Linked DNA regions of Homo sapiens: all the other regions are linked to region 1. The links come from fine-mapping of genetic effects on gene expression. A gene starts in region 1. Each other region holds a variant in brackets. All regions are shown on one strand. Distances are from middle to middle.

Region 1 (9,933 bases):
TCTTTTTTTTTTTTTTTTGGAGACAGTCTCACTCTGTCGCTCAGGCTGGAGTGCAGCAGCACAATCACTCTCGGCTCACTACAGCCTCCGCCTCCTGGGCTCAAGCAATTCTCCTGCCTCAGCCCCTTAATACTCTTAAAAATGACTGAGGACACCAAAGAGTTTCTGCTTATGTGGGTTACATCTATCGATACTTACTATATTCAAAATTAAAACGAAATGTTCCAAAACCTTCATTTTTAAATTACACAGTAAGATGAAACACATTACATGTTTTTATGAAAAATCGTTTTCCAGAAAAATTTTGGTGAGAAAAAGTGGCATTGTTTTTACATTGTCACCAATCTCTCCAAGTTCTGGCTTTGTAGAGGATAGCTTCTACACTGAATCTGTTGAGATATTTTGTTCTGCTTGAAAAATGAGGCAGGCCGGGCATGGTGGCTCACATCTGTAATGAATGCTAGCACTTTGGGAGGCCGAAGCAGTGGATTGCTTGAGCCCAGGAGTTCAAGACCAGGCTGGGGCAACATGGTGAAACCACCTTTCTACTAAAAATACAAAACTTAGCTGGCTGGCTGGAAGTGGTAGCTCATGCCTGTAATCCTAGCACTTTGGGAGGCCAAGGCAGGCAGATCACTTGAGGTCAGAAGTTTGAGACCAGCCTAGCCAACATGGCAAAACCCTGTCTCTGCTAAATACACAAAAATTAGCCGGGCGTGGTGGCAGGCACCTGTAATCCCAACTACTCGGGAGGCTGAGGTGGGAGAATCGTTTTGAACCCGGAAGATGGAGGTTACAGTGAGCCCAGATCACGCCACTATACTCCAGCCTGGGCAGAGTGAGACTCCATCTGAAAGAAAGAATGAAAGAAAGAAAGAAAAGAAAGAAAAAGAAAGAAAGGAAGGAAAAGAAAAGAAAAGAAAGGAAAAGAAAAGAAAAGGAAGGAAGGAAGAAAGTAGGTTAGCTGGGTGTGATGGCATACACCTGTAGTCCCAGCTAATCAGGAGGCTGAGGTGAGAGGATCACCTAAGCCTGGGGAAGTCAAGGCTGCAGTGATCTGTGGCCATGATCGTGCCACTGCACTCCAACCTGGGCAACAGAGTAAGACCCGTCTCAAAAAAAAAACAGAAAATCAGGCCTCATACTGATAAGGAGTTGGAAAGGCCTTTTCAGATTAACTGTAGATATTCATTTTGGATACTACCCAAAATTCAACAAGAGGTAGGTTCTTTTTTTTCTTTTCTTTATGCTACCTTGTCCAAGAAGGAAGTAGTTTCTCACAGGCTAGTTAGAACCTTCAATCTGAAATAGTATCAGTGAATATTTCTTTCTCTGCTGCATTAAAATCCACTGTTCTATCTTTCCCTTTCAATGGACCTGGATTATGTCTCACCCAATATCAAAATGTACTCATCAGCATCACTGCCTATCTCACCAAGAAAGTCTTTACTTAATGGGAAGCTGTCAAGCTCACATTAGTAGAAGTTTTCCAAAATTTTAATTTCCTTTTTTTTTTTTTGACAGGGTATCTCTCTGTTGCCCAGGTTGGAATGCAGTGGTGCCATCAAGACTCACTCCCACCTCCACCTCCCAGGCTCAAGCCATCCTCCCGCCTCAGCCTCCGGAGTTGCCGGGACTACAGGCATGTGCCACCACCCCCAGCTAATTTTTGTATTTTTTTGTACAGACAGGTTTCACCACGTTGCCCAGGTTGGTCTCAAATTCCTGGGCTCAAGCAATCCACCCACCTTCGCCTCCCAAAGTGTTGGGATTACAGGCATGAGCCACTGCGCCGGCCCAAAATTTTAATTTTCACTGGAAAGTTCTACTTCATCACTGGCAACAAATACCAACAGCTTACACTGAAGTAACAGGTTCTCAGTTCATTTTCAAGATGTCTGCCAAATACCCAAGTATGAACAATCACTGTTTGTCATTCATTCAAGTAAAAATAACATCCCATGGAAAAAAGCTGTTAGTTCAGCTCACTCAATCACATGCGTACTCTTGCTCAAGACAACTAACGCGGGCCTGTAATCCCAGCACTTTGAGAGGTCGAAGCAGGTGGATATGTGAGGTCAGGAGTTCAAGACCAGCTGGCCAACATGGTGAAACCCCATCTCTACTAAAAATACAAAAATTAGCCAGGCAGAGTGGCACGCACCTGTAATCCCAGCAACTCGGGAGGCTGAGGCAGGAGAATCACTTGAACCCAGGAGGTGGAGGTTGCAGTGAGCTGAGATCGCCCCACTGCACTCCAGCCTGGGTGACAGAGCAAGATTCTGTGTCAAAAAAAAATTTTTTTAAAAAAGACGTACAGTCAAGAGTCCAATCTAATCAAATTTAAATGTTTTACTCTTTCATCAAGAATCATTGATGGAAGTGGCTTTTTTTTTTTTTTTTTTTTTTGAGACAGAGTCTTGCTCTGTCGCCAGGCCGGAGTGCAGGGGTGTGATCTCAGCTCACTACAACCTGTGCCTCCTGGGTTCAAGCAATTCTCCTGTCTCAGCCTCCCAAGTAGCTGGGACTACAGGCGCGCACCACCATGCCTGGCTAACTTTTGTATTTTTAGTAGAGACAGGGTTTCACAATGTTGGCCAGGATGGTCTCAATCTCTCGATCTCGTGATCTGCCCGTCTCGGCCTCCCAAAGTGCTGGGATTTCAGGTGTGAGCCACTGGGCCCGGCTGGCTTTTTTTTTTTAACTCTTTGCTGTCACTGCCTTGATGTTTGGTAAAGCATCAGCGGTTTTACCCATCATTGCTATGGCACCAACAGTGGAAATGGCAATAATATGTAAACATTACCACAAAAACTAATTTTAGCCTCGGAGACCCCCTATGGTCTGTGGACATCCTGAGAAACAGGACTCTAACCAAACTAGAATATGCTAAAATCACACGTTATGTCCACAACTCCAAGCTGTTCATGTCACTCGTGTCTGGGGAATTCCCACTCATCTTTCCAAGTCTAGCCAAGTGTCACTTTCCAGTGGGTCCCTGACACACAACCTCCAGCACCGCTCCCCTCCTTTAGAGATCTGTTCCCTCAATGCTTACCCTCTTTATAACTTCCACTATATATACTCATTTACAGAATACATCCACTGCCATTCTGATCCCCCATGCCAAGCTCACTGTAACACCCTAAGGTCAATAACCACATCTTATAATCAATCCAATCAGCACCGCCCTATGAACTCTGAGATTTTAGGCAAAACAGTGACAAGAAACCTAATCATATATTGTCAGGGAAATAATCTGACGACCTCTCCAGTCAGATCAACTCTATATTATTATTTTTCTGAAGCAATCCTCCTAAAATATAATTTACAACCTGGGCAACAGAGCAAGACGCTGTCTCTACAAAAAATAATTTTAGACCAAGCACTGGCTCATGCCTGTAATCCCAGCACTTTGGGAGGTCGAGCTGGGTGGATTACCTAAAGTCGAGAGTTCCAAACCAGCCTAGCCAACATGGTGAAACCCCGTCTCTACTAAAAATACAAAAATTAGACGGGCGTGGTGGCAGGTGCCTGTAATCCCAGCTACTCGGGAGGCTGAGGCAGGAGAATTACTTGAACCCCAGAGGCGAAGGTTGCAGTGAGCCAAGATTGCGCCATTGCACTCCAGCCTGGGCGACAGGGCAAGACTCTGTCTCGAAATAACAATAATAATTTTTAAAAGTTAGGCGGGCGTGATGGCCTCCCCCTGGAGTCCCAGCTTCTCAAGAGGCTGAGGCGGGAGGCTCGGTTGAGCCCGGGAGGTGGAGGCTGCTACGACTGCATCAATGCACTCCAGCCAGGGCAGCAGAACAAGACCCCATCTCAATAACAAAACAAAAAAAAGCAAAAAAGCACGCTTTTCGTGCATGTATAAACAGTGCTTCTTCATACTCAAACTCTTAGCTCTATAGCTCTGATCTGCAGAGAATTTCAAAAACCAAGCCACAGCTAGTTATTTGGCCAACAGCAAATAGGCTGAACCACAGAAAACGGTCCAATGAGCCATTTCATAGGATTCGCCCTCATAAAAATTACAAGGGGGAGAAAGAAAAGCGACGCGGGTGGAGTGAAACGGCATGAAACGGGGACAAGATGAAGTTAAAAACGGCTCACCTGTCATTCCAATCGTCCCCTCGACGTCTTTCATCTCTCTCGCGGGAACGGTCGTAGTCGCTGCGCTCTCTTCTGAACTTGTCCCTGCGCCTTCGATCGTACTCGTCATCACTGTCACCCATGGCACGGTCTGAGGGGGCCTGGGGACCGGGGAGAGGCGGTAGGAGTGGTGCAAAAGGACGAGCGGAGGAAGGGACCGTCCCTCGCGGGCAGCTCGCCCGCTTCCCTCCCGCCAAGGCCAGCCCTCCGCGGCCCCCACCATCCTAGGCCTGAGAACGCGGCTCCAACACCTCCACTCGCCCCGAGTTTCTCCGCGCCCGCCCCCGTGGACCCCGGTTCCTCTCCCGCCCCAGCGGGGCCCCCCAGGCTCCTCCCCTCCCCCACCTTGGTGCGGCCGCGGCCGTTGGACTCGCGCTCGGACGGGCTAGATTTCAGGGCGACCTGGGTCGCGGGCGCGCGACGAGGACTTCGAGGAGGGCGAGACGGAGACGGAGCTCTTGAGTAGAGGGCCGAAGAGAGGCGAACAAAAGTGGGACAACCGGGGATGGGCAGTAGCGCGCGCAGCCCGCGCTGCGCCTGCGTCACCCACGCCTCCGAGGCACAAAGCTCCACCCTCGCGGCCGGAACTGGAACTAACAAACCGAGCGCGAAGGGCGGGGAGAGCAGGGCGTGATGGGAAAGGGGCGGGGATCTCGCAAGTCTCGCGCGGCTTTTCGAGACGATAACGGCTCGAGCGTTAGGAACTACGGGACCTCGGCTGGGCCAAGCGCGGCCTCGGGAGGCGAACAAGCCCTCTGGGCGCGAAGGGAGAGCGGAAGTCGAGGATCGCGCGACCCCAGATGTGTCGGGGTCCTAAGACGGTTCTCATCCAGCCATGTTCCCCCCACGGGCCTCCTGACCTCACCGGGGGTGATTTCGTCCCCTCCTCGGGCAGGGCGTGGGCTTGGGAAGCGCGGGCGCTTAGGGGATGGAAGGTGGAAGCAACCATTTTAAAGCATCGTATCCCACCATTTTCTGCTCCAAATATCCAGCCAAAATTGGGTGCCACAGTGCGCACTAAATGCAAAGTCCGCCGTTCCTGCTTTTCCTCGACAAAGACGCCCCGTCTTTAAGTAAAATTGGCAGATCTCAGTCTTAACCCCGCTCAGTATTTGGATGAAATAGGCTGTAAGTTAACGCCCTAAACAGAGTATGGACCGCCCAGATTCAATGGATTACCACCCCCGGGAGTAACACCAAGGCCCCTCTCAGTGAATTGAGTGTGAGACTTAATAGGAAGACCAGCTGAGATGGCTCACGCCTGCAATCCCAGCGCTTTGGGAGGCCGACGTGGGAGAATCACTTGAGCCCAGGAGTTGGAGACCTGCCTGGGCAACATAGCAAGGCCCCTTTACAGAATATTTAGGGCCAGGCACATTGGCTCACACCTGTGATCCCAGCACTTGGGAAGGTCGAGGAGGGAGGACTTAAGCCCAAGAGTTCAGGACTAGCCTGGGCAACATAGCAAGATCCCATCTACACACAAAAAAATAATAACTGGGCTTGGTGGGATGCCCCTGTGGTCCTAGCTACTGGGGAGGCTAAGCCAGGAGGACTGTTTGAGCCCAGGAGTTCAGGGCTGCAGTGAGCCTTGATTGCACCACTGCACTCTAGCCTGGGGAACAGAGTGAGGCCCTGTCTCAAAATAGATACATAGAGGAAATCTTGCCTCCTCCCTGAGGCGTGCTTGCTCCCAGCACTGAGAGGAGGGTAGTGACGGATTACAAGAGTTGTCAAAAAAAACTGGACCTGAGTCAAAAAGACCCAGGTTCCACCATTTAAGAACCATGCAATCTGGGGGAGTCACCTCTCAGCTCTGACATCCTCACATGTAAAAATGCAGACAGTGGCCAAGGGCGGTGGCTCACGCCTGTAATCCCAGCACTTTGGTTGGGTGAAGCGGGCAGATCACTTGAGGTCAGGAGTTCAAGACCACCCTGACCAAGGTGGTGAAACCCCGTCTCTACTAAAAATACAAAATTAGCCAGACGTGGTGGCGGGCGCCTGTAATCCCAGCTACTCAAGAGGCTGAGGCAAGAGAATCACTTGAACCTGGGAGGCAGAGGTTGCAGTGAGCCGAGATGGCACCACTGCATTCCAGCCTGGGTGACAGAGCCAGACTCCGTCTCAAAAAAAAAAGAAAAAAAATGCAGGCAGTAACAATGACTGGGCCTGTAATGGGCTACTGGGAGAATCAGATGAGACAACAGACTTGGAAGTGTTTTGTAAACTCGAGGGATTATTATTTCTTGATTGGAGAAAGAGAAGACAGCATTTGGTGACAAAGTCATACAGGTGGATGTCAGGGAGAGTGATCAATCAAAGGATGGGAACTGGAACTGAGAACCCAGCAGGTACTTCTAGGAAGACTCAGCAGTCAGTGGTGACGGTGGCTGAGAGCTCCTGGATGCGCCAGGCGCTGCAGGCCTTGCACAAGATGTGCCCATCCAGCGGGTAGCAGCCCTGACACTCGCCCTCAGAGGAGAGCAGCAGCCCACACTCCTGTTGAAAAAGAAGCAACAATTGGCCGGGCGCGATGGCTCACGCCTGTAATCCCAGCACTTTGAGAAGCCGAGGCAGGAGGATCACAAGGTCAGGAGTTCAAGACCAGCCTGGCCAATATGGTGAAACCCTGTCTCTACTAAAAATACAAAAATTAGCCAGGCATGGTGGCCAGCACCTGTAATCCCAGCTACTCAGGAGGCTGAGGCAGGAGAATCACTTGAACCCGGGAGGTGGAGGTTGCAGTGAGCCAAGATTGTGCCACTGCACTCCAGCCTGGGCAACAGAGCAAGACTCCGTCTCAAAAAAAAAAAAAAAAGAAAGAAGCAACAGGTTTCCATCAACCCCAGACCTCTGTGTTCCCCCTCATGCTCTACCCAGCACCCTAGACACTGCCAGCCCCTTGCACGTGCTGGGGGCCCCTGACCTCGCACTTGTAACAGCCAATGTGAAAACTTCGATCCAGAGCAACAATTCTCACAGTCTCCTCCTGACCTGGCTCAGGCATTATGGCCCCACCGCACACTGAGCATCTTGGGGCAAACTTCCTGCAGGGGAAGAGAACCAAGAAGGCCATCAAGCCTTGGGGTTGCAGGGCACCAACAATGGAACCCAGAGAAGGTGGGGCACAGGAGGGAATCAGAGAGGCCAGAGGTATGGCCTTAGGTCTTGGGGAAGGGACGATGTCAAAGAGAATGAGAGAGGCTAGGTGCAGTGGCTCTAGCCTGCAATCCCCCGACTTTGGGAGGCCAAGGCAGGAGGATCACTTGAGGCCAGGCGTTCAAGACCAGCCTAGGCAACACAGCAAGACGCTGTCTTTATTAAAATACAAAGAAGAAGACTGGGTGCAGTGGCTTACGCCTGCTATCCCTGCACTTTGGGCGGCCGAGGCAGGTGGATCGCTTGAGCTCAGGAGTTTGAGACCAGCCTGGCCAACATGATGAAAGCCTGTCTCTACTAAAAATACAAAAAAAAAAAAAAAAAAAAAAACTAGCCAGGCGTGGTGGCATGCGCCCGTAATCCCAGCTACTGGGGAGGTTGAGGCAGGCAAATCACTTGAACCCAGGTGGTGGAGGTTGCAGTGAGCTGAGATCGTGCCACTGCACTCCAGCCTGGGTGACAGAGTGAGACTCCATCTCAAAAAAAAAAAAAAAAAAACGAAGAAAACTAGCCAGGCATGGTGGCGTGTGCACCCGTAGTCCCAGCTACTCAGGAGGCTGAGGTAGGAGGATCACTTGAGCCCAGGAGTTGGAGGCTGCAGTGAGCTATGATCATGCCATTGCACTCCTGCCTGGGCAACAGAGTGAAACTCCGTCTCTAAAAAATAACAATAACAAAGAACGAAGGAGGGCCAGGGTTGGAAACAGGAAGAGACAGTCCTGGGGCATGAAGAGATGAGAGAGACAGGAAAGGTCAGACATTGTGAGACAAGGTGGAGGCCAGGCCTGACCTGTGAAAGTCCTCAATGCAGTGGATCTGGCTCGTAGCATCCACTGTGAAGGGGATGCCGTCGAGGCCGCGGTGACACACCACGCAGGTGAAGCAGCCAGGGTGGTAGGCCTTCCCCATAGCCCGCAGGATCCGGTCCAGGATGGGCTGGGAGCACGTGGCACATTTCTCCAGGGTGGCCTGTTGGGAAGGAAGGCAGGAAGATCTGGGAGCGGGCGGGAGCCATGGCAGCTCAACAGGAACCCCAGCAACCCAGCCATCTAATTTCTGCAGCCTCCTGCATGCAGCCTCCTGCATGTGATTCGGTGAAAGGCAGACTTGAGCAGATCTGAGTTCAGGTCCCAGCACTATACACGGTATTTAAACACTATGAGAAAAACAGGAATCAGGCTGGGTGCAGTGGCTCACGCCTGTAATGCCAGCACTTTGGGAGGCCAGAGTGGGCGGACTGCTTGAGGCCAGGAGTTTCAAAACAGCCTGGCCAACATGGCGAAACCCTGTCTCTACTAAAAATACAAAAATTAGCTGGGTGTGGTGGTGGGCACCTGTAATCCCAACTGCTCGGGAGCCTGAGGCATGAGAATCGCTTGAACCAGGGCAGGCTGAGGTTGCAGTGAGCAGAGATCACCCCACTGCACTCCAGTCTGCGCAACAGAGCGAGACTGTCTCAAAAAAAAACAAAAAACAAAACCAGGAATCAGTAGTAATACCTGCCTCACAGGGGTGTCATGGGAATCTAACACATTCTCTTTAACTGTAAGATGCTCCACACTTGTAAGAGCTGCGTCCTTCCCTTCAGCCACCAGTGTTAAGCTACTTGCTTGATACTTGCAGAATTCCGCCCTGTTTGTACATCACTTTCAGTCGCCTGGCTTTTAGCACCGTTCCTCCTTTGGTCTTGGACGCTCTAGTTACCACCTTGGATGGAAGCCCCCTGCATCCAGCCACTGACTCCCTCCTCCCAGCCCCAGCCACTCACCACGTAGCAGCCCTCGCAATATGCCCTCCTCTCCACGGCGTAGAAATGCTGGCCGCGAAGCTGGGCCCGGCATGTAGAACATACAAAGCAGCCCACGTGAAAGACGCGATCAAGGGCCACAACCCCAGCCCCATCCCCAACCACATCTTCTCCGCAGCCACCACACTGGCCTGAGGACAGGGAGAAACAGCATCAGTCTTCACAGACCCAGGAAGCCACTGTCCCCTCTGTCTCCCAGCCTCCCTTCCCACGTCCCACCCACCCCACAGCCTCAGCTCACCAAAGTACTCCCCGCTGGGCGGGTGGTTCATGTCGTGAACCAGCTTCTTCGTCAGCCTATCCAGCTCATCCTCTGGAGGCTGGCTCAGGGGCACCTGGAAGGTGGGAATCGGGCTCGGTCCTACTCTAGCTCCTGATGCTGTAATACCAGGGCCCTCAGCCGCCAGGCCATGGCCTGTTAGGAACTGGGCCACACAGCAGGAGCTGAGCAATGGGCAAGCAAAGCTTCATCTGTATTTACAGCTGCTCCCCATCACTTGCATTACCGCCTGAGCTCCACCTCCTGTCAGATCAGCAGCGGCGTTAGATTCTCATAGGAGCATGAACCCTATTGTGAACTGTGTGTTCGAAGGATGTAGGTTGCAAGCTCCTTATGAGAATCTAATGCCTGATGATCTGTCACTGTCTCCCATCACCCCCAGATGGGACTGTCCAGTTGCAGGAAAACAAGCTCAGGGCTCCCACTGATCCTACATGATGGTGAATTGTATAATTGTTTCGGTATATATTACATTGTAATATACATTGTAATATATACCGAAACAATTATATATACTATATATTCTATT
Region 2 (9,933 bases), 55 kb before region 1:
CACCTCCTAGGTTCAAGCAATTTCCCTGCCTCAGCCTCCCGAGTAGCTGGGAATACACGCGTGCACCACCATGCCCAGCTAATTTTTATGTTTTCAGTAGAGACAGGGTTTTGCCATGTTGGCCAGGCTGGTCTCAAACTGCTGACCTCAAGTGATCCACCTGCCTCAGCCTCCCAAAGTGCTGGGATTACAGGGGTGTGCCACCACACCTAGCAACCCATTTCTTTGGACTCCAAATTTGCTGATTTAATTTCTAGAAACTGAAAAATCCAGCGTGAGGTCACGGGACTGCATGTGTTTCCATGGGCGTTCTGGTGCAAAAAATAGAATAGTAAAATAAAATAAAATAAACGATCAAACAAGAAAAACCTCAGATTGTGAAAATGCAGAGAGAGAGAGGGGTACAGTATTCTAAACTAAAGCATCATTTGGGAGAAACTTTCTAGATAATGTTGAAGATTGGACAATTCCTAGGTGCCATCCTGTTTGAATCTAATCATCATGAAATTGCCTTTGGAGATTGTCTATAAAAAGAAACCCTGTTTGTTTTGTTTTTGTTTTTGTGAGACAGAGTCTCACTCTGTCACCCAGGCTGGAGTGCAGTGGCTTCATCTTGGCTCACTGCAACCTCAGTCTCCCAGGTTCAAGCCATTCTCCTGCCTCAGCCTCCTGAGTAGCTGGGATCAGAGGCCCATGCCACCATGCCAAGCTAATTTTGTATTTTTAGTAGAGGTGGGGTTTCACCATGTTGGTCAGGCTGGTCTAGAACTCCCGAGGTTTCCCCATGTTGGCCAGGTTAGTCTTATTCTCCTGACCTCAAATGATCCACCCGCCTCAGCCTCCCAAAGTGCTGGGATTACAGGAGTAAGCCCCCCAGCCAGGAAACCCTGTTTTGACAGCAAGGTTAATGGAGTTCTGTGGACTGGCTCCTGATGGGCAGGCCGAATAGCAGCAGGGCTGTGAATACCTCGGCAGTGGCTTTCATGGGTGAGTGGGACCATCTGATGGGCTGGGCAGGGCTCCCTGGATGGGTGGGGTTTCTTGGATGGCTGTGGCTTGCTGGCAGGTGGGGCTTCTTGGGTGGGCAGGGCTTCTTGAGTGGGTGTGGTTTCCTGGATGGGGCGTGGCTTCACGGGTGGGTGCAGTCTTACCACAGGGCCAGACCCCTAGGTAGGGGGAGGTAGAAATCCTCCTAGCCAGGTAGCTGGTACAGAAGCAGATGGTTGGTGGGGAAAGGAGTGGGGAAGGGACAGTTAATCTGGTAACTAAGAGCCTCTGGCCACAGTAACTCCAGAGTTGGACCACAGACACTATATTTGCTGCAAGGAGGGAGGATGGTACCAGAAGACACTGGAGTTGGGAGGACCAACCCCCAGGACCCTAACCCACTGTGCCCAGGTGGGAAACTGGTAACCTGGCCAAGGAGAGTGGTTTGGAGACCCCACTGAAACCGCCTTTGCAAAAATTATGACAGAGGCCGGGTGCAGTGGCTCACACCTGTAATCCCAGCACTTTGGGAGGCCAAGGTAGGTGGAGTGCTTGAGGTCAGGAGTTCGAGACCAGCCTGGCCAACATGGCAAAACCCGTCTCTACTAAAACTTAGCCGGACATGGTGGCAGGTGCCTGTAATCCCAGCTACTCAGGAGGCTGAGACAGGAGAATCACTCGAATCTGGGAGGTAGAGGTTGCAGTGAGCCGAGATCACCCCACTGTACTCCAGCCTGGGTGACAGAGTAGGACTCTGTCTTTAAAAAAAAAGAAAAAAGAAATTATGACAGTGAGTAAGACCCGACACAGGAAAATGATGGCAGTAAAATAATGTAATCTAGCTGACTTCTTCTTGCTTCTAGCCTCTAAACTGTCCTTGTTCATTCCTGGGCATAGGCTAGGTTAACTTGGGGAGGAATTTAATTTATGGTTTAAACTTAAAGCAAGGATGATAATAGCCCTTCCCAAAACTACCACCTGTTTGTTCTGGGACCAAACTGCCTTTGTAAAACTAATGACAACTCACAAGATTAGGATTATGGGGGTGTCTGAACTCTGCTAAAATGAAGCTAAAAGTTCAGCCATTGAGCTGGGTGCGGTGGCTCACGCCTGTAATCCCAGCACTTTCGAAGGCCGCGGGGGGAGGGGGGATGCGGATCATGAGGTCAGGAGTTCGAGACCAGCCTGGCCAACGTGGTGAAACCCCGTCTCTACTAAAAATACAAAAAAATTAGCCGGGTAGATGGTGAGCCTCTACCTCCCAGATTCAAGTGATTCTCCTGCCTCAGCCTCCCAAGTAGCTGGGACTACAGGCATGCACCACCAACCCCGGCTAATTTTTTTGTATTTTAGTAGAGACGGGGTTTCACCACGTTGGCCAGGCTGGTCTCAAACTCCTGACCTCATGATCTGCCTGCCTCGGCCTCCCAAAGTGCTGGGATTACAGGTGTGAATCACCGCACCCGGCCTCTTGAAAGTATTTTTACTAGGTATAGAATTCTAAGTTGACAGTTTTTTTTTTTTTCAGCACATGAATAAGATTCCATTGTCTTCCGGCTTCAAGGTTGCTATACAGAAGACTGAGCTTAATCTGTCAGGCCTTTAATTTTTTTTCTCTTGCTGCTTTAAGACTTTCTGTTTCGTTAATATTCTGAAGCTTCACCAGGATGTTTCTGGGCATGGATTTCTTTGTATTTATCATGCTTGGGATTCCTTGGCTTCTCAAAGCTGATAAGGTCTCTTCTCAGTTTGGGAAACTTGCCAGCCATTCTCTCTTCACATATTTTCTCTTCCCCCGTTAACTCTTTTCTCCAGGAACTGCAATTAAATAGAGGTTAACCCTTCCCTTTCTATTCTTCATGTGTTTTTAACTACTCTTCCGTATTTTCTGTCTCATAGCTGCTCATGAAGCATGTGGTGAGTTTCTTCTGTTCTCTCAGTTTACAGATTCTCTCTTCAGCTCTGTCTAATCTGCCACTAAAACCTCCTAATAAGTTTGTTTGTTTTTTTTTTTTTTTTTTTGAGATGGAGTCTCTCTCTGTCACCCAGGCTGGAGTGCAGTGGCACGATCTCGGCTCACTGCAACCTCCGCCTCCCGGGTTCACACCATTCTCCTGCCTCAGGCTCCTGAGTAGCTCGGACTACAGGCGCCTACCACTGCCACCACACCCAGCTAATTTTCCTTCGTACTTTCTTAGCAGAGATGGGGTTTCACTGTGTCAACCAGGATGGTCTTGATCTCCTGACCTCATGCTAATAAGTTTTTCAATAAACAAATCTACATTTTAATAAGTTATTGGATACACACATGTATTTATTACTGAAAATGGAAATAACATATCAAAATATCCTCCTTTCGCTATTCAAGTTTGTTGGGTTCTTTTGTTTGTTTTTTGAGACTGAGTCTCATTCTTTTGCCCAGGCTGGAGTGCAGTGGTGCCATCTCAGCTAACTGCAACCTCCACCTCCCAGGTTTAAGTGATTGTCCTGCCTCATCCTCCTGAGTAGCTGGGATTACAGGCATGCACCACCATGCCTGGCCAATTTTTGTATTTTTAGTAGAGACTAAAAATAGTTTCACCATGTTGGCCAGGCTGGTCTCAAACTCCTGACCTCAAGTGATCCGCCCGTCTTGGCCTCCAAAAGTGCTAAGATTGCAGGCATGAGCCACTGCACCCAGCCTCAATATTCAAGTTTTTTTAAAGGTAAAGACACATCTAGCTACATGTACCCTTCTCTAATGTTATGCTTTATCCAAACTACCCAATGTAAACTCATTTTATATATTCCTTCCACATAAATTTCTTTACTTCAAGTGTTTGATGTTAGGTCTGCTCTCATCTCATTGACTTCAGGATTCTAAACCATACATGTAATCCATGAGAACTTGTACTACCTGGAGCCAAATCAAAAACTAGAACTGAGATACCAAAGCATCAAATTACAAAGAGGGACAAAGGGAAAAAAAAAAATTTACGTAGTCAAAATCATATTTTGAGTTATTAAAAATTATTGGATTTTTGCTGGGCACAATGGCTCACGCCTGTAATCCCAGCACTTTGGGAGGCCGAGGTGGGCAGATCCTGAGGTCGGGAGTTTGAGACTAGCCTGGCTAACATGGTGAAACTCCATCTCTACTAAAAATACAAAATTAGCCAGGCGTGGTGGCATGTGCCTGTAATCCCAGCTGGTCAGGAGGCTGAGGCAGAAGAATCACTTGAACCTGGAAGGCAGAGGTTGCAGTGAGCCGGGATTGTACCACTGCACTCCAGCCTGCGTGGCAGAGTGAGACTCATCTCCAAACAATAACAATAAAAATAAAAATTATTGGATTTATGCTTTCACTTAGAGTAAAAAAGCCACAAGAGGCTGGGCATGGTGACTGACACCTGTAATCCCAGCATTTTGAGAAGCCAAGGCAGGAGGATCGTTTGAGGCCAGGAGCTCAAGACCAGCCTGGGCAGCCTAGCAAGGCCCCCATCTCTACAAAAAGTGCAATAAAATTAATACATAAAATAAATCCACAAGAGACTATCACTCCTACCATAAAAAGAAGAAAAAGCTGGGTAATCTATAGGTTTTGGCATTTCTTGAGCCCATCAGAAATTTAGGCTTCAAGGCAACCAGGTGAACTGAGGTCCAAAGAGTGACCGCACCCTCTCAGGAGAGACAGGACACATGAAAAGTTCCACCTTTGTCAGAGCACAGGAGGAAGAAGTGGCCACCAAAAAAGCAGGTGATAGGAAAACAACATTTTAATGAATTCTCAGAGGCCAGGAGTGGGCCAGCATGACAACTTAGAATCCCCCTGGGTGCATCAGGATCTAGCAGACCCCAAGTTCACTCGCAATCTCTTTTCCACCTCTTGGTGCTCATGAGAAAGATTGGAGGTACAATGAGACAAGAAAGAGGCTCCCTCAGTGGTTCTCAGGCATGAACCCCCTCCTACCTCCCAGAACCTTGTCTCACAAGAAGCAGAAGGACTTAAGCCTCAGGGGAAGGGGCAGGAATCCTTCCCATCCCCTGAGGACAGGCAAAGGTTCACTCCTGGTGGAAGTAAGGGTACAAGTAAGGCCATGTATTTCTGGGGGAGGGATAGGACCAGCCCCTCATTACATGGTGAGGGAGGGTTGAAGCAAAATCTGCCCCCTTGGGAGGGGCAGGAAATCTCCTGGCTAAATCACAAGCTTTGCACCTGTAAACCAAAAAGAAAATTCTAAGCCCCCCAACCTACTGAGCGGACTCCTTCTCGCCAAGGGCATTCCAAAGTAAACCTGCAAAACTAGTTCAGGCCATGATGGGAAGGAGTGTTGGACATGCCTCATTCTGCCCTCATCTCTTTGGAATTCAGGCACAACTGACCAGCATTAACATCAACACAGAGATCTTAAGGCTGACAAAACAGACTCTTTGTAGCAATAAGATACCAAATTCCAACCTGACTGAAGTACAGCATCACATGACAGATAGCAGGTCCTGAAAGAAACAGAAGTATTTTACCCCAAAATAAATTTTTCTTTGACATATTTTGAAACAGCCCTGCAAATCTGTCTCTTGTAGGGAAAATCTACACTGTGTAGAGAGTCCCCTTCCCTTTCCAGGTCTTCTCCTGATTCAGGAGAGATATAACTAAGAGTCTGGCACCTTTTTAAGTCTGATGAGAAACACTTACCATCTATTCTCTCTGAAGCCTGCTACCTGGAGGCTTCATCTGCATAACAAGAACCTTGGTCTTGGCTCATGCCTGTAATCCCAGCACTTTGGGAGGCCGAGGTGGGCAGATCACAAGGTCAGGAGATCCAGACCATCCTGGCTAACATGGAAAAACCCTGTCTCTACTAAAAATACAAAAAATTAGCCAGGTGTGGTGGTGTGCACCTGTAGTCCCAGCTACTCGGGAGGCTGAAGCAGGAGAATCACTTGAACCCGGGAGGTGGAGGTTGCGGTGAACCAAGATTGCGCCACTGTACTCCAGCCTGGGCAACAGAGCGAGACTCTGTCAAAAAAAAACAGGTGGTCTCCACAACCCCTTATCTTTTTAAAAAATGTTTATTTTATGTGCAAAGAGCTATCATGGTTTTTTGGGGTTTTTTTTGTTTGTTTGTTTGTTTTTGACGGAGTCTTGCTCTGTTGCCAGGCTGGAGTGCAGTGGCGCTATCTCAGCTCACTGCAAACTCCACCTCCCGGGTTCAAGTGATTCTCGTGCCTCAGCCTCCTGAGTAGCTGGGATTACAGGCATATGCCACCACGCCCAGCTAATTTTTGTATTTTTAGTAGAGACGAGGTTTCACCATGTTGGCCAGGATGGTCTCGATCTGCTGACCTTGTGATCTGCCCACCTTGGCCTCCCAAAGTGCTGGGATTTCAGGCGTGAGCCACCGTGCCCGGCCACTATCATGGTTTTTCACTGGGTACATGCGTTGGATAAACCTTTCAAGGAAGGTCAGTTAGTGCAACTTAATGAAACCGATATCTTTCCTGTACTGACGGAAACACTGGCAGTACATATTGAGGGCATATTTACAGATCAGACCATGCCGATTTGGGCCGATGTGACAAGAATGAAAACCCTGGCCGAATATTCACTGGTGGCTCTAGTACAGCTGCTGGTGACCCATCTTGCTCTCAGAAGTGCAACAAGGTAAAAGGCCACAACCTCTTATTTTTAAACCAGACACGCCTTTCTGTTGATTCCAGGTCTTTAGATCATAACTTTACTCTTTCGACCAATTTCCAATCAGAAAATCTTGGAATTTACCTATGATCTGGAAGTCCCCCTGCCCCACACCCCAAATTGTTCCA[T/C]GATTCCTGAGTGAACAAATGTACACTTTACACGTATTGATTGACGTATGCCTGTAACTTCCATCCCTCTAAAACGTATAAAATTGGCCGCAGGGGCGCACACCTGTAATTCCAGCAATTTGGGAGGCTGAGGTGGGCGGATCACTTGAGGTCAGTTTCACTTGAGTCCGTGTGAAGAGACCACCAGGTTTTGTGTGAGCAATAACGCTTTTAATCACCTGGGTGCAGGCGGGCTGAGTCCGAAAAGAGAGTCAGTGAAGGGAGAGAGGGGTGGTCAGTGAAGAGAGAGTCAGTGAAGGGAGAGCGGGGTTTTATAAGATTTGGGTAGGTAAAGGAAAATTACAGTCCAAGGGGGGTTGTTCTCTGGTGGGCAGGGGTGGGGGTCACAAGGTGCTCAGTGGGGGAGCTTTTGAGCCAGGATGAGCCAGGAAAAGGAATTTCAGAAGGTAATGTTATTAGTTAAGGCAGGAACAGGCCATTTTCACTTCTTTTGTCATTCTTCAGTTACCTCAGGCCATCTGGATTTATACGTGCAGGTCACAGGGGATATGATGGCTTAGCTTGGGCTCAGAGGCCTGATTTTCCTGTCTTCTTATATTAATAAGAAAAATAAAATGAAATGGGGTAAAGTGTTGGGGCGGCGAAAATTTTGGGGGGTGGTATGGAGAGATAATGGGTGATGTTTCTCAGGGCTGCTTCGAGCGGGATTAGGGGCGGCGTGGGAACCTAGAGTGGGAGAGATTAAGCTGAAGGAAGATTTTGTGGTAAGGGGTGATATCGTGGGGTTGCTAGAAGAAACATTTGTCGTGTAGAATTACTGGTGATGGCCTGGATATGGTTTTGTATGAATTGAAAAACTAAATGGAATAAGAGAAGGAGAAAAACAGGTATCAAAGGACTAAGAATTGGGAGGACCTAGGACATCTAATTAGAGTGCCTAAGGAGGTTCAGCACAGCCTTGCCAGCAAAGATTATTTATTTACTTTAAGAGTTAAGAGAGGCGGTTTGGGGATAGCACCAGGAGATACCAGCTGTGATGGCTTGGAGAAACAGTGTAAACTGGCAGTGTAAACAAGAGCAGGGCATTTATGAGTAGTTGAGAACAGTGAATAGGAGTATCACTAGACAGAAGATAGTAGGAATGACAAGTTTTTGGGGGCACAGTCTAAGTTGGTCTGGTGTCTGGAATAAGACTGGGGCCTAATAAAAAGGAGTGTCTATACAGGAGCTTAACTGGGCTGTACCTTGTAGCATTGTGAGGACAGGCCTGAATTCTGAGAAGGGCAAGTGGTAAAAGTATTGTCCAGTCCTTTTTAAGTTGGTGGCTGAGCTTGGTAAGGTGTGTTTTTAAAAGACCATTAGTTCACTGAATACTAAGAGCCTGAGAAACTGCTTGGGTGATTTGACTAATAAAGGCCAGTCCATTATAGGACTAGAGGTGGGAAGGCCAAACCGAGGAATTTTGTCTAAGAGAAGGGAAGAAATGACCGTGGTGGCCTTCTTAGACCCTGTGGGAAAGGCCTTTACCTATCCAGTGAAAGTGTCTACCTAGACCAAGAGGTATTTTAGTTTCCTGACTCGGGGCATGTTGAATAAAGCCAATTTGCCAGTCCTGGGTGGGGGCAAATCCCTGAGCTTGATGTGTAGGGAAGGGAGGGGGCCTGAATAATCCCTGAGTAGTAGAATAGCAGATGGAACACCGAGAAGTTATTTCCTTGAGGATAGATTTCCATGATGGAAAGGAAAGGAGAGGTTCTAAGAGGTGGGATAGTGGCTTGTTCTATAGCATAGCCTGCCTTTACTGGTGTGTGGTGATTAGGCCTGGTGGAACTGCCATCAATAAACCAAGTGTGATCAGGGTGAGGAACAGGAAAGAAGGAAATATGGGGAAATAGGGTGAATGTCAGGTGGATCAGAGAGACACAGTCATGGAGGTCAGGTGTGGTATCAGGAATAAGGTGGGAGGCCAGATTGAAGTCCGGGCCAGGAACAATGGTAATTGTGGGAGACTCAACAAAGAGTACAGCTGAAGGAGCCAGGGAGTAAAAAGTATATGTGTCAGGTGTGAGGAAGAAAATAGATTTTGGAAGTTATGAGAACTGTAGAGAGTGAGTTGAGCATAGTTTGTGATTTTAAGGGCCTCTAAAAGTATTAGGGTGGTGGCGGCCGCCGCACGCAGACTTGAGGGCTAGGCAAAACAGTAAGGTCAAGTTGTTTGGATAAAAAGGCTACAGGGCGCAGTGTGGGTTCTCGTGTAAGAATTCCAACTGCACAGCCCTGCACTTCGGCTGTGGGTAATGAAAAGGGTTGGGATGAGTCAGGGAGAGCTAGGGTGGGGGCAGTCTCTAAAGCTGTCTTCAAGGAATGGAAAGAGGAGTGGGGAAAGGATTTAGGATCTATGGGGTCAGCTAGGTTTCCTTTTGTGAGTTTATATAATGGTTTTGTTAGGATGGCAAAATCAGGTACCTAAAGTCAAAAGTATCTAACCATGACTAGGAAGGAAAGGGGTTGTTGTTTTGTAGAAGGTGCTGGGGTTTGAGAGATCAGTTGGAAACGATCAGCAGGGAGAGCATGTGTGTTTTTATGAGAATTATGCTGAGATAGGTAACAGATGAAGAAGAAATTTGGGTTCAACTGAAGGAATGGGGGCTGTCTGTGAAGCCTTGAGGCAGTACAGCCCGGGTAATTTGCTGAGCCTGATGGGTGTCAGTCAGGCCAAGTGAAAGCGAAGAGAGGCTGGGATGAAGGGTGCAAAGGAATAGTAAAGAAGGCATGTTTGAGATCCAGAACAGAATATTGGGTTGTGGAGGGAGGTATTGAGGATAGGAGAATATATGGGTTTGGCACCGTGGGGTGGATAGGCAAAATAATTTGGTTGACAAGGCGCAGATCCCAAACTAACCTGTAAGTTTTGTCTGGTTTTAGAACAGGTAAAATGGGGGAATTGTAAGGGAAGTTTATAGGCTTTAAAAGGCCATGCTGTAGCAGGCGAGTGATAACAGACTTTAATCCTTTTAAAGCGTGCTGTGGGATGGGATATTGGCATTGAGCGGGGTAAGGGTGATTAGGTTTTAATGGGATGGTAAGGGGTGCATGATCGGTCACCAAGGAGGGAGTAGAGGTATCTTATACTTGTGGGTTAAG
Region 3 (9,933 bases), 43 kb before region 1:
TGACCAGTGCCGGAGTTTTGGGTTCATGGATAAAATGCATCTCCTTTGTGTCTACCGGAAAAGGAAAGGAACTGAAATTAAGAGAAGGGAGAGACTGAAGTGTGGCACCAAGATTGAAAGGAGAAAGAGGTTGAGGGATACTAAGAGAGGTTGGAGAAGGGAGTGAAAAAAGGCCACTTACCCGATTTAAAATTGGTGAGATGTTCCTTGGGTGGTCAATCTGAGGACCCAAGGTCGTAGGTGGATCTTTCTCATGGAGCAAAGAGCAGGAGGACAGGGGATTGATCTCCCAAGGGAGGTCCCCCGATCTGAGTCACGGTACCAAATTTCACTCACGTCCGTGTGAAGAGACCACCAAACAGGCTTTGTGTGAGCAATAAAGCTTTTTAACCACCTGGGTACAGGCAGGCTGAGTCCGAAAAGAGAGTCAACGAAGGGAGATGGGGTGGGGCCATTTTTTAAGATTTGGGTAGGTAAAGGAAAATTACAGTCAAAGGGGGGTTCTCTGGTGGGCAGGGGTGGGGATCACAAGGTGCTCAGTGGGGGAGCTTTTGAGCCAGGATGAGCCAGGAAAAGGAATTTCAGAAGGTAATGTCATCAGTTAAGGCAGGAAAAGGCCATTTTCACTTCTTTTGTCATTCTTCAGTTACTTCAGGCCATCTGGATGTATACGTGCAGGTCACAGGGGATATGATGGCTTAGCTTTGGCTCAGAGGCCTGACAGTCAGGAGTTTGAAACCAGCCTGGCCAACATGGTGCAACCTCATCTCTACTAAGAATACAAAAATTAACGGGTATAGTGGTGGGCACCTGTAATCCCAGCTACTCAGGAGGCTGAGGCAGGAGATCACTTGAGCCCAGGAGGCAGAGGTTACAGTGAGCTGAGATTGTGCCACTGCACTCCAGCCTGGGCAACAGAGAAAGACTCCCTCTCAAAAAAAAAAATTGGCCAGGGGTGCTGGCTCATGCCTGTAATCCCAGCGCTTTGGGAGGCCAAGGCAGGAGGATCAGTTGAAGCCAGGAGTTCGAGACCAGCCTAGCCAACATAGTGAAATTTCATCTCCAATAAAAATACAAAAATTAGCCAGACATGGTAATGCACACCTGTAATCCCAGCTACTTGGGTGGCTGAGGCACAAAAATTGCTTGAGCCTGAGAGGCAGAGGTTGCAGTGAGTGCCACTGCACCCCAGCCTGGGCAACAGAGTGAGACTCTGCCTAAAATAAAATAAAATAAAATGTATAAAAGCTGTAAACCAACCACCTTGGGCACCTGTTCTTAGGACTTTTAGGGGCTATGTCATGGGCCTTGGTCACTCATATTTGGCTCAGCATAAATCTCTTTAAATATTTTAGAGTTTAACTCTTTTTGTCAACACATCAGTTGACAGTGATCAGTAGTCTACCTAAAACTGCCTTTGTGAAAATTTTATCACTGAGAAAAATTATAATAGTAAGCAGAGTTAACACCCTCCACCTGCACCACCTTGCCTTTCCCTTGATTATTTGGGGGCTATTGGGCCAAGCTAACTTTGGAAGACATTTTAGGTTATCATTTAAATGATAACAGGCCTTGCCCTGAAACTCCTCTCCTCCCCAAAGCCTTTTGTAAAGCCAATGGGAGACCATCAGGCTTGGAGGAGAGGAGCTTGAGTCCTAAGATTGGCCTTTTGAGATGTCTTTTCAGGATTTTTGCATGTCAGACATCCATGGCTCCACCTGAACCCACCTGAATCCCCCACCAAACCCACCCCTGTGGCCCTGCCCAGAAGCAATTCTGCCTGCAGGAGGCAGAATTTCATCTCCACCCCAACCAATCAGCAGCAAGCACCTATTACCTGGCCACCCTCATCCCTTTGTGGAGTCCTAATTAGGGAAAGGGAACCAGGCTGGTGGAACCAAGAGAAAGCAAAAAGAGAAAGCAGATAAGCAACAAGTCTGTCTTTCTTCATGATCCAGGACACACAGCCCTCCTGCACAAGTAACTTACAACCTTTCCTGCACCCAGCTATCACCAGACACCTGTAAGTTAGCTCACTGCAACTTTGATGTTATCAGTACTACATAAAGCCCTCTTCAACAGAGAGCATAAACACTACCCTATAAAATCTCCAGCGAGTCTTTGTTTTTTGCAGTCAGTTTCTCTTCTGCTGGTAGCCCGTTATCTCTCTGGCAGTGTATTTTCCTACTTTGTCTAATAAATTTGGCTTCCTTTACTTACAACTGTCTTCACAAATTCTTTTACCCCACACCACCAGCTGTCGTTTTCCCATGACACCCCTAACATACAAGCTTTGGACAAGATGATTTGAATGCTAACTCCATCTCCCATGTGGCATGGCGAGCCTTGTGTCTATTAAACTCTTTCTCTACTACAATGCCATGGTGTTTCTTTACGCAGCAGGCAAGAAGAACCTCTCAGGTGGTTACACATCCTCCTGCTCTCCTTTCCAAGCTAGCTGCTGCTGAAGAAGAACTAGAGGCAAAGCTGAGTGCCCTGGTGGAGGGGAGGACAGCTGCTTGCACTCAGAAGCCTGCACAGATACAGAGAGGTCAGCCACCATGGGAGTAGGGATGAGAAATTCTGTCCTGCCAAAACCCCCACCAACCCAAAGACAAAAGGAAAAGTTTGGCTGCCACGAGGAAGGACAGATATGCTGAGAAATTCCATCCCCAAGACCCAGGAGCAAAAAACTTGCCTGAGACAGAGACTAGCCCTGAAGAAATGGAATACCATGCCTCTGTCAGAGGCAGGTGAACCAGAGCAACTCCATCTTGAATAGGAACTGGGTAAAATGAGGCTGAGACCTACTGGGTGCATTCTCAGATGGTTAAGGCATTCTAAGTCACAGGATGAAATAGAAGGTCGGCACAAGATACAGGTCATAAAGACCTTGCTGATGAAACAGGTTTTGTAGCAGGACAAGCCGCAGACACAACCCCTCAGACACTGAGTTAAAGAAGAAAGGGCTTTATTCAGCCAGGAGCTTCAGCAAGACTCACGTCTCCAACAACCGAGCTCTCTGAGTCAGCAATTCCTGTCCCTTTTAAGAGCTCACAATTCTAAGCGGGTCTGCATGAGAGGGTCGTGATTGATTGAGCAAGCAGAGGGTACGTGACTGGGGGCTGCATGCACCGGTAATTAGAATGGAACAGGACAGGGATTTTCACAGTGCTTTTCTATACAATAGCTGTAATCTATAGATAACATAACCAATTAGGTCAGGGGTCAATCTTTAACAACCAGGCCCAGTGTGTGGCACTGGGCTGTCTTTTAGAAATGAAATGTGGATTTCATTTCTGCCTTTTAGTTTTTACTTCTTCTTTCTTTGGAGGCAGAAATTGGGCATAAGACAATATGAAGGGTGGTCTCCTCCCTTAGTTTCAGTAAAGAAGCCGGCCAAAACCCACCAAAACCAAGATGGTGAAGAGAGTGACCTCTGGTCGTCCTCACTGCTACACTCCCACCAGCGCCATGACAGTTTACAAATGCCATGGCAACGTCAGGAAATTACGCTATATGGTCTAAAAAGAGGAGGCATGAATAATCCACCCCTTGTTTAGCATGTCATCAAGAAACAACCATAAAAATGGTCAACCAGCCACCCTCAGGGCTGCTTTGTCTATGGAAAGGCCATTATTTTATTTCTTTATTTTCCTAATAAACTTGCTTTCACTTTACGGACTCACCCTGAATTCTTATGCAAAATCCAAGAACCCTCTCTTGAAGGGTCTGGATTGGGACTCCTTTCCTGTAACACCTCTACCATGAGCCTCACACCAAGTAACCCACAAGAACAGTCCCAAGCTGTTGGCAGGGTGAGGAAAGCAAGAACATGGGAAGAGATCTTGCTTTGAAAGCCCCCAACTAAATGGGGGTTTCCGTAGCAGAGCAGCTAGTAACCCTGCTTTAATGGGAAATGAAGGACATGGTGTTTGCAGTGTCCCTTTCATGGGTTGCTTCTTTTGTTAGCAGCAGCGAATCCACACGGGTCTGCAGCAATTCAATTCTTGCCTCCTCGAAGGAAATAATTCCTCTGAGGGGCATAAGGCAGAGTGAGAGACTGAGGCAAGTTTTTGAGCAGGAGTCAGAGTTTATTAAAAAGTTTTAGAACAGGAACGAGGCCGGGCACGGGACAGCTCATGCCTATAATCCCAGCACTTTGGGAGGCTGAGATGGGCGGATTGCTTGAGGCCAGGAGTTCAAGACCAGCCTGGCCAACATGGCGAAACCCCGTCTCTACTAAAAATACGAAAATTTGCCAGGCGTGGTGTCGGGCGCCTGTAATCTTAGCTACTGGGGAGGCTAAGGCAGGAGAATCACTTGAACCCAGGAGGCAGAGGTTGCAGTGAGCTGAGATCACACCACTGCACTCCAGCCTGGATGACACAGCAAGACTCTGTCTCAAAAATAATTAATTAATATAAATTTTTAAAAAAAGTTTTAGAGGAAAGAAAGGAAGTAAAGTACACTTGGAAGAGGGCCAAGCAGGCAACTTGAGAGATTCAAGTGCACTGTTGAGCCCCTGACTTGGGGTTTTATACATTGGCATGGTTCCGGGGGTTGCGTCTCTTCTCCCTTGATTTTCCCTTGGGGTGGGAACAGTATATTTAC[T/G]GAAGTTGTGCACATGCTCGTTTGAGGCGTTCTTCCCCTACCAGCTGAGGGTTCCTGGGAAGACATAGATCTGTTGGCCAAGTGCAGTGGCTCACGCCTGTAATCCCAACACTTTGGGAGGCCAAGGCAGGAGGATTGCTTGAGGTCAGGAGTTCAAGACCAGCCTGGCTAACATGGTGAAACCCCCCTCTACTAAAAATATAAAAACTAGCTGGGGCCGGGCGCGGTGGCTCGCACCTGTAATCCCAACACTTGGGAGGCTGAGGCAGGCAGATCATGAGGTCAAGAGATCAAGACCATCCTGGCCAACATGGTGAAACTCCGTCTCTACTAAAAATAAAAAAAAAAAATTAGCTGGGCGTTGTGGTGTGTACCTGTAATCCCAGCTACTTGGGAGGCTGAGGCAGGAGAATCCCTTGAACCTGGGAGTTGGAGATTGCAGTGAGCCGAGATCACTCCACTGCACTCCAGCCTGGGCGACAGAGCAAGACTCCATCAAAAACAAAACAAAAAAGAAATACCACTTAAACTCTGCCATGTTGCCTCTTAGTGCACATGCTTGAGCCCACTCACCCAACTCCTGAGATCTTATCAGGAAGCTGCTTATCACCAGCCTCAGGTGTTTTCTGTCTATTGGGAAACCACCTTTCCCTGGCGCCAGCTACAACCAATTATTATTTCAGAAAGACAGTTTAACAACCACTTGACCACCACCTATTTGTCACTTGACATTACTGGGGAAGGGAATGGGGCATCCTCTCCTACCCTCCTCATGTCTGCCTAGATACCTACTCTAACATAACCAGCCACGGCAGGCCCAAGCTACTGGGGAGCGGGGCGAGCAAGAACATGGAAAGACACCCTGCTTTGAGAGCTACATGAGGGTCTCAGTAGCAGAGCGGCTAGCAAACCTGCTTTAAGGAGAAATGAAGGGAAGCTGGGTGTAGTGTTCACAGCGGGCTTTTCACAGGATACTTATTTACCTAATGGATGGCCTAATGCTTAGGGATCCCTAAAGGTCCCTTACTTGGGAAACTTGCTTATACTGGCAGACACCTCGTGGCTTTTGTGTGACCCACCACGTCCAGTTTATGCCTGCTGGATGGTCTCTCTGGCTCTGGGAGCCCAATCTTATGTTCCCCCAGGCGCCCCAGGGAAAACCCAGCCTCAGATTTCCCCTAGTTCTTCAGATGGAAGTTGAAAATTCAGGAAAGCACTTTTACCGGAAACAGGTCCTAATTCAGTCCGCAAGAGAGGGTTCTTGGATCTTGTGCAAGAAAGAATTTGGAAGGGCCAGGCGCAGTGGCTCACGCCTGTAATCCCAGCACATTGGGAGGCTGAGGCGGGCGGATCACGAGGTCAGGAGATCGAGACCATCCTGGCTAACACGGTGAAACCCCGTCTCTACTAAATACAAAAAATTAGCCGGGCGTGGTGACAGGCATGCCTGTAGACCCAGCTACTCGGGAGGCTGAGGCAGGAGAATGGCATGAACCCAGGAGGCGGAGCTTGCAGTGAGCTGAGATCATGCCACTGCACTCCAGCCTGGGTGACAGAGCGAGACTCCGTCAAAAAATAAAAAAAATAAAAAAATAAAAAAATTGGAGTGAGTCCACAGAGTGAAGTGAAAGCAAGTTTATTACAGAAGTGAAAAAACGTGAGAATGGCTGCTTCATAGACAGAGCAGCCCCGATGGCTGCTGGTTGGCCATTTTTGTTTCGTTTTGTTTTTTATTGTTTGTTCTTCTTTTTTTATTAGTTTGTTTGTTTTGTTGGTTGGCTATTTTCTAATGGTTATTTATTGATCGTATGCTAAAGAAGGGGTGGATTATTCATGAGTTTTCCAGAAGAGGGGTAGGAATTTCCCAGAACTGAGAATTCCTCCCCCTTTTAGACCATATAGGGTAACTTCTGGGCATTGCTATGGCATTTGCAAACAGTCACAGCACTGGTGGGAGTGCCATTTAGCAAGCTAATGTATTATAATTAGCATATTATGAGCAGTGAGGACAGCCAGAGGTCACTCTTGTTGCCATCTTGGTTTTGGCGAGTTTTGGCCGGCTTTTGTTGAGACGGAGTTGCTCTTTCGCCCAGGCTGGAGTGCAATGGCACAATCTCAGCTCACTGCAGCCTCCACCTCCCGGGTTCAAGTGATTCTCCTGCCTCAGCCTCCTGAGTAGCTGGGATTACAGGGGCCCGCCACCACGCCCGGCTAATTTTTTGTACTTTTAGTAGAGATAGGGTTTCACTATGTTGGCCAGGCTGGTCTCGAACTCCTGATCTTGTGATTCGCCCGCCTCAGCCTCCCAAAGTGCTGGGATTACAGATGTGAGCCAAAGCACGTGGCCATGGCTGGCATTTTTTTTATTGCATCCTGTTTTATCAGGGTCTTTGTAACCTACATCCTATCTCATCCTGTGACTAAGAACGCCTAACCTCTTGGGATGCAGCCCAGCAGGTCTCAGCCCATTCTACCCAGTCCCTACTCAAGATGGGGTCGCTCTGGTTCAAATGCTTCTGACACCATCACAATAGGAAACAAGTTCAAAGATTTCTTTTTATTATTATTATTTTATAGAGATGGAGTCTCACCGGCCGGGTGCAGTGGCTCACGCCTGTAATCCCAGCACTTTGGGAGGCCGAGGCGGGCGGATCACGAGGTCAGGAGATCGAGACCATTCTGGCCAACACAGTGAAACCCCGTCTCTACTGAAAATACAAAAAAATTAGCCAGGTGTGGTGGCGGGCGCCTGTGGTCCCAGCTACTCGGGAGGCTGAGGCAGGAGAATGGTGTGAACCCAGGAGGTGGAGCTTGCAGTGAGCTGAGGTCGTGCCACTGCACGCCAGCCTGGGCGACAGAGTGAGACTCCATCTCAAAAAAAAAAAAAAAAAGAGATGGAGTCTCACCATGTTGCCCAGGCTGGTCTTGAACTCCAGGGCTCAAGTGATCCTCCTGCCTTGGCCTCCCAAAGTGCTGGGATTAAAGAAATGAGCCACTGTGCCTGGCCCCAGAGATTTTTTACAGACAATAAATAAGGGCCTCCTAGGCAGGAAGGGCACCATGAGTCAGGAGGGCACCATGAGTTGGGAAAACACCATGAGTCAGGAGGGCACCATGAGTTAGGAGAACAGTCCTCCATCCCCAGGTCAAGTAGAGAAAGAGAGAATAGGAGTAGAGTCGAGTGGAGAGAGCATGTGGCAACTAGCAGTACATATATAGAGAGGGGAATACAGTGCCAGTCACTTGAAGTTCAAGGGCAGATGTCTAAATGCTCCACTTAAAGAAAGTGGTGGGGGCTGGGCGCGGTGGTTCATGCCCATAATCCCAGCAATTTGGGAGGCCAAGAGGCCGAGACGGGTGGATCACTTGAAGAGAAGAGTTTGAGACTTGAGGTCAGGAGTTCGAGGCCTGGGCAACAGGGCAAGACTCTCTCAAAGAAAGAAAGAAAGAAAGAACCTCGTGGAGGTAGAGAGTTCGAGACCTGGCCAGCCTGGTGAAACCCCATCTCTACTAAAAATATAAAAATTAGCCAGGCCTGGTCACTTGCGCCCATAGTCCCAGCTACTCAGGAGACTGAGGCAGGAGAATCGCTTGAACCTGGGAGGCAGAGGTTGTAGTGAGCTGAGATCGCACCATTGCACCCCAGCCTGGGCAACAGAGCGAGACTCGATCTCAAAATAAATAAATAAATAAATAAATAAATAAATAAATAAATAAAAATAAAGGAAGTGGCGGGAATGCAGGGAGCCCAGCCTGCTGGGTGAGAGAGGCGCCTTTAAGTTCATATTCTGGCTACCAGCTTGGCCCATGTGGATGTGGTGATCTACTTCTAAAGTCTAGCCAGCAACCTTTGGTCTGTTGTTCCTAATACCACTGACCTAGGCGTGAGACCTTGTGCATATTCCAACGGGTACCGTTCGAATGGTGTGGATATTAAAGGCTATCAGAGAAGTCTGGGCTACGTGCCATGCTGAGTAAGGCCTTGGATGAGCGTAAACAGTTGAAGCATATGAAGGCACCCAGTTGACCTGAAATCCCATGCACAGCCACCCACTCCACCGCCTAGGGTGGCGCCAAGGGAACAGATCAACTCTGGACCTAGAGCAGAGTGTAATGATGCTGTCACACACTGGCATGGCTTCCAGATTGGCTTGCACATGGCCAGAGTTTCTTTTAGGGATGGATGTGAGCAGAGAGCAAGCAGCGTACTAAGATCATAGCCTATGCAGGCAGGGAGTTCAGAAAGAAAAGTAAAAATGTCCTATGTCCATTTGTGTCTTAGGAGAGGTGAATCCATGGGCGTGACCTAGGTTTACCACCCAAGGAGTGAAGGTTTAGCGTAAGGGGTGAAGTCATCTCTAGTGTCAAGGCCCTGGGTTGGGGTGATGTCGTCTGAGATGATGGCATCTACAGCAGTGAGATTTTGGGGTGATGTTGTCTGGCATCTGGTATGTAGGATGGGGCTCCTTCTTTTTTTTTTTTTTTTTTTTGGAGGCAGGGTCTCCCTCTGTCACCCAGGCTGAAGTGCAGTGGCACTATCATGGTTCACTGTAGCCTCAACCTCCAGGGGTCAAGCAATCCTCCTGCCTCAGTCTCCAGAGTAGCTGGGACAACAGCCATTCGCCACCATGCCTGGCTAACTTTTTTTTTAATTTTTTTTGTAGAGGCAGGGGTCTCATTATGTTGCCCAGGCTGGTCTCAAACTCCTGGCCTAAAGCAATCCTCCCACCTTGGCCTCCCACAGTGCTGGTATTACAGGCGTGAGCCACCACGCCTGGCCTAGTGCATTTTTTGAAAGGTTAAAGTTAGAACCTACATTGTAGAGGCACAAAACCCAGTGTCCTTTTTTATATTTTTGTTATATGAATTTTGAATTTCCAGTTGAATCAAACTATGGAAAATATATTGTATACTAAATTTATCTGTTTATATTTATATTAAAATATTATATATGTATCATATGTATATTATATATGTATAATACATATAATGTATTACATATAATATACATATGTACATATAAGGTATACATATCTACATATATATTGTTACATATAATATACATATGTACATATAAGGTATACATATCTACATATATAATATATTGTATATAATATATACAATATATTTAACCATATATATTGTACCTCTAGGTACAAGGAGAAAATAAAAGGTGACTAGATAAATTATATATACATATATAATGTGTATAGAATATACATGTAGTATACCTATATGGTACATATAATAATATATAATGTATTATATATTAATATATATACACACATATGTGTACATATGTATATATTATACAGTAAT

Alleles and levels. Positions count from the first base shown, and alleles are read on the strand shown. Sizes are in standard deviations (SD) of each study's normalised expression. Not every link is listed here.
For the expression in esophagus mucosa of the gene that starts at base 4,726 in region 1, allele C in region 2 goes with a higher level than allele T (small effect, 0.14 SD a copy in GTEx).

Evidence for each region. PIP is the estimated chance that this variant, and not a neighbour inherited with it, causes the effect.
Region 2: its variant is the best candidate, but not a certain one, in a credible set for the expression of SRRT in esophagus mucosa (GTEx, PIP 0.61).
Region 3: its variant is the best candidate, but not a certain one, in a credible set for the expression of SRRT in sun-exposed skin (GTEx, PIP 0.50).

Annotation. Positions count from the first base shown.
Region 1 is chr7:100,869,896-100,879,828 of GRCh38, reverse strand. It overlaps SRRT (serrate, RNA effector molecule), which reads right to left and starts at 4,726. Exons shown (of 20, transcript NM_015908.6): 1 at 4,501-4,726; 2 at 4,117-4,256. The coding sequence starts at 4,238. TRIP6 (thyroid hormone receptor interactor 6) reads right to left here. Exons shown (of 9, transcript NM_003302.3): 5 at 9,366-9,459; 6 at 9,086-9,255; 7 at 8,108-8,286; 8 at 7,085-7,205; 9 at 6,375-6,657. The coding sequence ends at 6,526. RefSeq lists a silencer at 4,245-4,474 and enhancers at 4,615-4,674, 4,885-4,934, 4,511-5,176, 5,177-5,841.
Region 2 is chr7:100,925,042-100,934,974 of GRCh38, reverse strand. It overlaps the pseudogene RPS29P15. Among named protein-coding and RNA genes, the nearest start is that of MUC3A, 20 kb to the left of the region's middle. RefSeq lists enhancers at 1,063-1,564, 5,580-6,536, 6,537-7,494. The variant T/C (reference allele first, on the strand shown) is at 6,790.
Region 3 is chr7:100,913,065-100,922,997 of GRCh38, reverse strand. No RefSeq gene overlaps it. Among named protein-coding and RNA genes, the nearest start is that of ACHE, 22 kb to the right of the region's middle. RefSeq lists an enhancer at 6,105-6,214. The variant T/G (reference allele first, on the strand shown) is at 4,615.